Homo sapiens: one gene and its partner. The protein of the gene in region 2 purifies or fractionates together with the protein of the main gene of each other region. This does not show direct contact. Each region holds a gene or a part of one and is shown on either strand. Other genes may lie near its edges.

Region 1 (3,753 bases), on a different chromosome or scaffold from region 2:
CAGCCTGGGCAAAAAGAGCAAAACTACGTCTCAAAAAAAAGAAAAGAAAATCATTGCTAAAACATTTAACCCTATTACTTTATGAAAAAGCTTATTTTATTTTATTTTTATTTTTTTAAATAGAGACAGGGTTTTGCTATGTTGTCTACCTTGGTCTTCTACTCCTGGCGTCAAGCAATCCTCCTGCCTCAGCCTCCCAAAAGTGCTGGAATTATAGGTGTGTGCCCAGCTAGGAATGACTGTCTTTTACGGAAAAGTTTTTTTTTAAATTGGTAAGTTGTCTTATTTTTCAATTCCTGTGTCATTAATATATGAAGATTATATTATTGGAAAAACTGAGAAAGATCCTAATGAAATATAAAAATGAATTTCTAAGAGGCAATATCCAATATTGGTTAATGCCAAGATTCTGAATACTTCTGGTCTTTATCACAGAAATAGCAACTGACTTCTACCAAACCAAAATTTGGAAATGTTCCAAGAATTTGGATCCAGTCTCAGATGGAGGGCTTTTTATTTTTTATTTGTTGATTATTTATCAAGAAAAACTATTTCTTAGCCCACATATGTATGCTTCATACTTTAGGAACATAGGTCAGTGACAAACTTCTACATAATTCAACTCAAAGAAATTCTCTCTCTCTTTTTGAAACAGGGTCTTGCTCTGGCGCCCAGGCTGGAGTGCAGAATGGCATGGTCATGGCTCACTGCAGCCTTGACCTCCAAGGCTTAAGCAATCCGCCTATCTCAGCCTCCTGAGTAGCTAGGACTACAGGTATGTATCACCATACCTGGCTAACTTTTGTATTTTTAACAGACATGGGGTTTCTCCATGTTGCCCAGGCTGGTCTCAAACAACTGGGCTCAAGAGATCTGTTTGCCTTGGACTCCCAAAGTGCTAAAATTACAGGCATGAACTACCGTGCCCAGCCCCAAAGAAATTCTATATATTCCAAAATCACTTTCAATTCTGAAAGATACCAGTCTTCCTCATTTCCTCAAAATCTGTTTTGTTTTGTTTTTTTTTTGAGACGGAGTTTCACTCTTGTTGCCCAGGCTGGAGTGCAATGGTGCGATCTTGGCTCACCACAACCTCTGCCTCCCAGGTTCAAGTGACTGTCCTGCCTCTGCCTCCCTAGTAGCTGGGATTACAGGCATGTGCCACCACGCCCGGCTAATTTTGTATTTTTAGTAGCGACGGGCTTTCTCCATGTTGGTCAGGCTGGTCTCGAACTCCTGACCTCAGGTGATCCACCTGCCTCGGCCTCCCAAAGTGCTGGGATTACAAGCATAAGCCACCGCCCCCGGCCATCATTTCCTCAAAATCTTTTATGGAATCATAATTTCTATAGAAATCTAATAATAAAAAAAATTAGCTAGGTGTAGTGGCATATACCTGTAGTCCCAGCTACTCAGAAGGGCAAGGCAAGAGGATCACTTGACCCCAGGAGGTTGAGGCTTAAGTGAGGTACCATGCCACTGCACTCCAGCCTGGGCAACATATTGAGACCCTGTCTCTACAAAAAATAAAAAATTAGCCGGGTGTAGTAGGGGTGCGTGCCTGTAGCCTCAGCTACTCGGGAGGCTGAGGTGGGAGGACTGATTGAGCCAGGGAGGCAAGGCTGAGGCTGCAGTGGGCTGTGATCATGCCACTGCATTCCAACCTGGGTGAGAGAGACCCCATTTTTAAAAAAATATATAGGGCCGGGCGCAGTGGCTCACACCTGTAATCCCAGCACTTTGGGATGCCAAGGCAGGCAGATAACCTGAGGTCAGGAGTTTGAGACCAGCCTGGCCAACATGGTGAAACCCCATTCCTACTAAAAATACAAAAATTAGCTAGGCATGGTGGCAAATGCCTTTAGTCCCAGCTACTAGGGAGGCTGAGGCAGAAGAATGGCTTGAACCCAGGAGGCAGAGGTTTCAGTGAACCGCGATTGTGCCACTGCACTCCAGCCTGGGCGACAGAACAAGACTCTGTCTCAAAAAAAAAAAAAAAAAAGGATAATCCATTCTGGCATGATATCAAAGACAGAGTGAGAAAATGAAAAATTTCTGTCCGGCTAAATCATCTCCACCAGAATCAAAAGAAAAAAAAAAGCTTATAAATCTATTGTTCATGTTAAAAAAAATGATGTGATGCAACAATAAATTGAGGAGCACAACATTTATTAACAAATATGACAGCCTGCATTTGCATGGGAAAAGGGCATTCTTGCACACTTCACTATGGCATATAAAATGGTATGATTTTTATCACTTTTCAGGGAGTGGGGTCTCACTATATTGTCCAGGCTGGAGTGCATAGGTGCAATCATAATGCACTACAGCCTTGAATTCCTGGACTCAAGCAATCCTCCTGCCTCGGCCTCCTGAGAAGCTGGTGCATGCCACTCACCTGGATTAAACTAGTATTATTAACTTTTTAAAGAGGTTATGTTGCCTAAGCTGGCCTCAAACTCTCAGGCTCAAGCAATCTTCCTGCCTCAGGCTCCTGAGTAGGAGGAGCCTGGAACTACAGGCATGTGCCAATGTGCCTGGCTTAAACTGGTATTATTTTTGTGTAGAAAAATCTGTCAATGCGCTATGCAAAATGTTTGGCCTAGCAATTCTACTTCTAAAAAATTATCCTAAGAAAATAAGTACATAAGGCTGGGCATGGGCATAATGGCTATGCCCAGCACTTTGGGAGAATCGTGTAAGTCCAGGAGTTCAAGGCTGCAATGAGCTATGATCACACCACTACTGCACTCTGGCCTAGGCAACAGAGAGAGACCCTGTCTCCAAAAAAAAAAAAAAAAAAAAAACACACACAGAGATAAATATCTAAGGATTCTAACTACAGTTTTGGATATAAGAATTAAACCTGTGGTTGATGTGGTGGCTCATAACTCATACCTGTAATCTCAGCACTTCCTGAGGATCACTTGAGCCCAGGAGTTTGAGACCAGCCTGGGCAATAAAGTGAAACCCCATATCTACAAAAAAAAAAACAAACAACAACAAAAAATCAGCTAGGCATGGTGACACACACCTATAGTCCTATCTACTTGGGAGGCTGATGCGGGAGGATCACCTGAGCCCTGGAAGTCAAGGCTGTAGTGAGCCGTGACTGCACCACTGCACTCCAGCCTGGGCGACAGAACCAGACCCTGTCTCTTTAAAAAAAAAAAAAAAAAAAAAACCAGGCACGGCGGCTCATGCCTGTAATCCCAGCACTTTAGGAGGCCGAGCTGGGCAGATCACCTCAGGTCAGGAGTTCAAGACCAGCCTGACCAACATGGAGAAACCCAGTCTCTACTAAAAATATAAAATTAGCCAGGTGTGGTGGTGCATGCCTGTAATCCCAGCTACTCGGGAGGCTGAGGCAGGAGAATCGCTTGAACCCAGGAGGCAGAGGTTGCGGTGGGCCAAGATAGCGCCATTGCACTCCAGCCTGGGCAACAAGGGTGAATCTCCGTCTCCAAAAAAACAAAAACAAATGTTAAAGAACTTAAATGTCGAGTAAAAAGAAATTACATAACTATTTAAATTTACACAATTCAGCCATTAAAAGCTATGATGTAAAATGATCCACATGTATCATTATGGAAAGGTGCTTATTATATGTCATATAACTCACCCAATATAAACTTTCTGTATCTTCACAATACTTACTTTCAGCTTCATGAGCCTTCAGCAGAGATACAGGCATAGTACCTTGTCTAACATCCCAAATACTCAACATTCCATCTTGGCCACCAGTAGCTACAA
Region 2 (3,753 bases):
AAAGTGAGACACTGTCTCAAAAAACAAAAACAAAGAGCAAGGCACAGCCCAGTCAGAGCAGTTTCTACTGATGAGGACACAAACAGGAGGCCAAGCAGTGTGCTAGCTTCGAGGTTCATCTTCGTAGTCAGAGAGGACAGGGTTCAAATCCCAGCTGCTTTTCTTATTAGTTGTCTAATCTAATCTTAAAATTACATTAACTTCTCTAAGCCTCAGTTTCTGCTACTATACAAGGAACAATAGCTCCAATAAACTCAATGAATCTTTACTGAAAGTCAACCAGGCTCAGTATACTTTTCTAGAAACTGAGAGATGTTATCAATGGGGATACAGCAATAAACAAGCCAGCTATAATACAATCTCTGCTTAACGAAACAGATCATGAGGCTGAAAACAGAAATATGAATACACAAATAACTTCATGAAATCTTAAGTCTCTGAAAGGGCAGCAATGTGTCCGCTTGTTGGCTACTGAATATCCCCCACCCAGATCTCCCAGCACTTAACAATGTCCTGGTACCCACTGGTACCTAAAAAATACTGATAAAAGAAAGGCAAGAAGCGTAAAAGTAAAAAGCCAGGGCTTCTGAGTCAGAGGCATAAGGAGCTGAGGGCCTGGACCGGCCACTTAGTAACCGTGTAACCTTGGGCAAGTTACTTCTCTCTGAGTGTCACTTTCTCATCTGAGGACAAAGTTTATGGTGCTGGCGCACAATGATGTTTAATGAAAAAATAGGCAATTTAATGAAATCCAACATTTATTGGGCACTATGTGCCAGGCACACATTTGAACATAATACGTGACACACATACCTCCTCTAATGGTCACAACATCCCTATGACATGGATACTGCTACTATGTCTCCCATTTTACAGGTGAGAAAACCGAGGCTGAGAGGCTAAATAACTTGTTGAAAGGCTACACAAGCAGCAGAGTTAGTATTTCAACCCAGGGAGCCTGGCTCCAGTGGGGCAAGTACTTGTCATTACATGTTTCTTAAAACTAATAAATGGAAAGATAATGATCGAAAATTGAAACGAGTCAAATGGGGAAACCAAGGCTCAGGGAAGTTAAACATGTTCAACATTGAGCAATAATGACAGATCCCAGATTTGAACCAGGCAGAACGGCCTCAGGACAAAAGCTTGACGCTGCATGGCCACGTGGTTTCTTAAGACTTAACGAATGAAAAAAGGGATGAAAGAATAACATTTCCGAAAGGCCGGACACCGCAGAAGGCACAGAAGGAGAAACTGAGGGAAATCCAGCTTCGGAGCGCAGGGGAGTCCCTCACCCGCCCAGGCCCCAGAGCCTCGGGGCCGCCCACGCCGGGATCCCGGCCCACCTTACCAGCGCGGCGACAGCGGAGGAGCGCCCGGGCCTCCTGCACCGTCCGCCGTCTGCCAAGCCGCGCCTCCAGCGCCGGGTGCCGGTAGCCCTTGGGGAAGCGGTGCTTGATCACCGCCGCGCGGCCCTGGAAGCGGCCACGGAACACGCGCGCCTCGGCACCCTGCTTCACCAGCTCCAGGCCGCTCAAGAAGCGGCTGCTCCGCTCCCGGGCTGCGGCCAGAGCCTCAGCCTCCGGGGCGGGCTCCTCGCCATCGGCCGGCGTAGTAGCTCTGGCCGCCGCCATGACTGCTCGGCGCAACAGCTCCAACCGATCAGCTGTCTCTGAAAACTGTCGCGATGCTTCGGCTCGCTTCGGAAATCCTGGGACTTCTTCGGCAATCCTGGGACTTCTTCGGCTACCCGAATGCGTCCACCCCGGACACTTCCGGCCTGTAAGTGGTTACGCCTCCCAACTTTTCGGCTCTCTGAAGCCTGAGGTTCCCTGCAGGAAGGGCTCTTGTGGCCCCGCCTTCCGCCTCTTCGGCTATCTCCGTACACGTTCGGCAACGCTCAGTAAGTGGCTCTTCCCGACTCCTTGGCTCTCCGGAAATCTTCGGTGACTCTCGCAGCCGGCTTTGGGGGCCCACCTCTCAGTTGGTCGTCTCTTTCCGGAAAACTTCGGCGCCTCTCGAGAAAAACGTCGGACGCGCTTTGCTCTCTTCAGAAGTCTCTTCCGGGACAGCTGTACCCTCTAGTAGTCTCTTTTTGGAACTCCTCTTCCCCTGACTCCTACATTCCCCCCAAAATGTGCTCATACAAGTCAGAGTCGGAAGGGTCAGACAATGAACCATGTTTCCGACATCCTCTTAAGTGCTAGGATAACTACCATTTAGTGCATTCAGAAGAAATAAGGTTAAATGATGAAAATCCTTACAGAAAAGAAAATTGAGACTCAGAGCTGGCAGAGGGGGTGGTAAGATGGGGTGGGGAGTGGGGGCTGGGGAATCCGGGAAAGTCTTCCGGAGACAGAACCTAAACTGAATTGGGAATAATTAAACTTTTTCAGTTTCTACCTGTTTCATTACAAAGCTTATAATAACACAGGCTGTAGCAAATTCTTACAATACGGAACTTTGCACACGCACACATAAATAAATAAACTACCTATCCCCCTTGTGACACTGCTGGCCGTTAGTTTCTTTCCAGAATTTTCTTTCATTCAGTGTGCACACTCACACATCGTTGTGGCGTTTTTTCCAACATAAATGACATCATACTGTGGGTTCTTTGGCAACTTGCTTTTCATTTTCCTAAACAATTTATCTCAGACTATATTCCATATCAATACATACAGAGCTACCACGTCCTTCTACCTGGTCAGGCAGTTTCTTGTTGCTAAACAGTTGTTTCCAGTTTGTTGTTTCTCAGGAAAACACTTTACTTACTATTGCCAGTTTATTATAAAAGATAGTATAAAAGATAAAAATGAACAGCCAGATGAAGACGTACATAAGGAAAAGTAAAAATTGTACGTGTTTATCGTAAGTAACATGTTTTGAAATATGTATACATTGTGGAATGGCTAAATCCAGCTAGTTAACGTTACCTAACATACTGATCATTTCGGGGGTGAGGACACTTAAAATCTATTATCTTAGCATTTTTCAAGAATACAACCCATTGTTATTATCTATAGTCACCATGTCGTGCAATAGATTTCATGAATGTTTCCTCCTATCTAACTGAAATTTTGTATCCTTTGACCAACTTCTCAAAATCCTCCCTATCTCCCTCCCCCTACCCCACCGCCTGGTAACCACCATTCTACTCTGCTTGCATGAGTTCAACTTTTCTTACCTTCCTCATATAAGTGAGATCATGGGATATTTGTCTTTCTGTGCCTAGCTTATTTCATTTAACACAATATCCTCCTGTTCCATCCATGTTGCTGTAAATGACAGCATTCCATTCTTTTTAAAGGCTGAATAGTATCCCATTGTGTATATAAATGTACCATATTTTTATCCATTCATTTAGTGATGGACACTCAGATTGAGAATTGTGAATGATGCTGCAATTAACATGGGACTGCAGACATCTCTTCAATATACTGATTTTGTTTCCTTTGGATATGTACCCAGTAGTAGGGTTGCTGGATCATAAGGTAGTTCTATTTTTATTTTTTTTGAAGAACCTCCATACTGTTGTCCATAATGTCTGTACTAATTTACATTCCTATCAACAGGGTGCAACGGTTCCCTTTTCTCCACATCCTTGCCAACACTTATTATCTTTCTTATGTTTTAAAATAGCGATTCTAACAGGTCAGAGGTGATATCTCATTGTGGGTTTAATTTGCATTTCGCTGATGATTAGTGATGTTGAGCATTTTTTTTTAATATACCCGTTGTCCATTTTTATGT

Evidence for each region. The genes of interacting proteins can lie anywhere in the genome.
Region 1: the proteins of TP53RK (region 2) and NUP43 purify together in Homo sapiens (affinity purification with mass spectrometry; 5 studies listed by BioGRID and IntAct, with this or other methods). This does not show direct contact.

The regions. Positions count from the first base shown.
Region 1 is NC_000006.12:149,732,814-149,736,566, forward strand, and holds part of NUP43 (nucleoporin Nup43), read right to left. Parts: coding exon 3,658-3,753; intron 1-3,657. UniProt on the Homo sapiens protein: Component of the Nup107-160 subcomplex of the nuclear pore complex (NPC). The Nup107-160 subcomplex is required for the assembly of a functional NPC.
Region 2 is NC_000020.11:46,687,781-46,691,533, forward strand, and holds the start of TP53RK (EKC/KEOPS complex subunit TP53RK), read right to left. Parts: upstream 1,665-3,753; 5' UTR 1,635-1,664; coding exon 1,352-1,634; intron 1-1,351.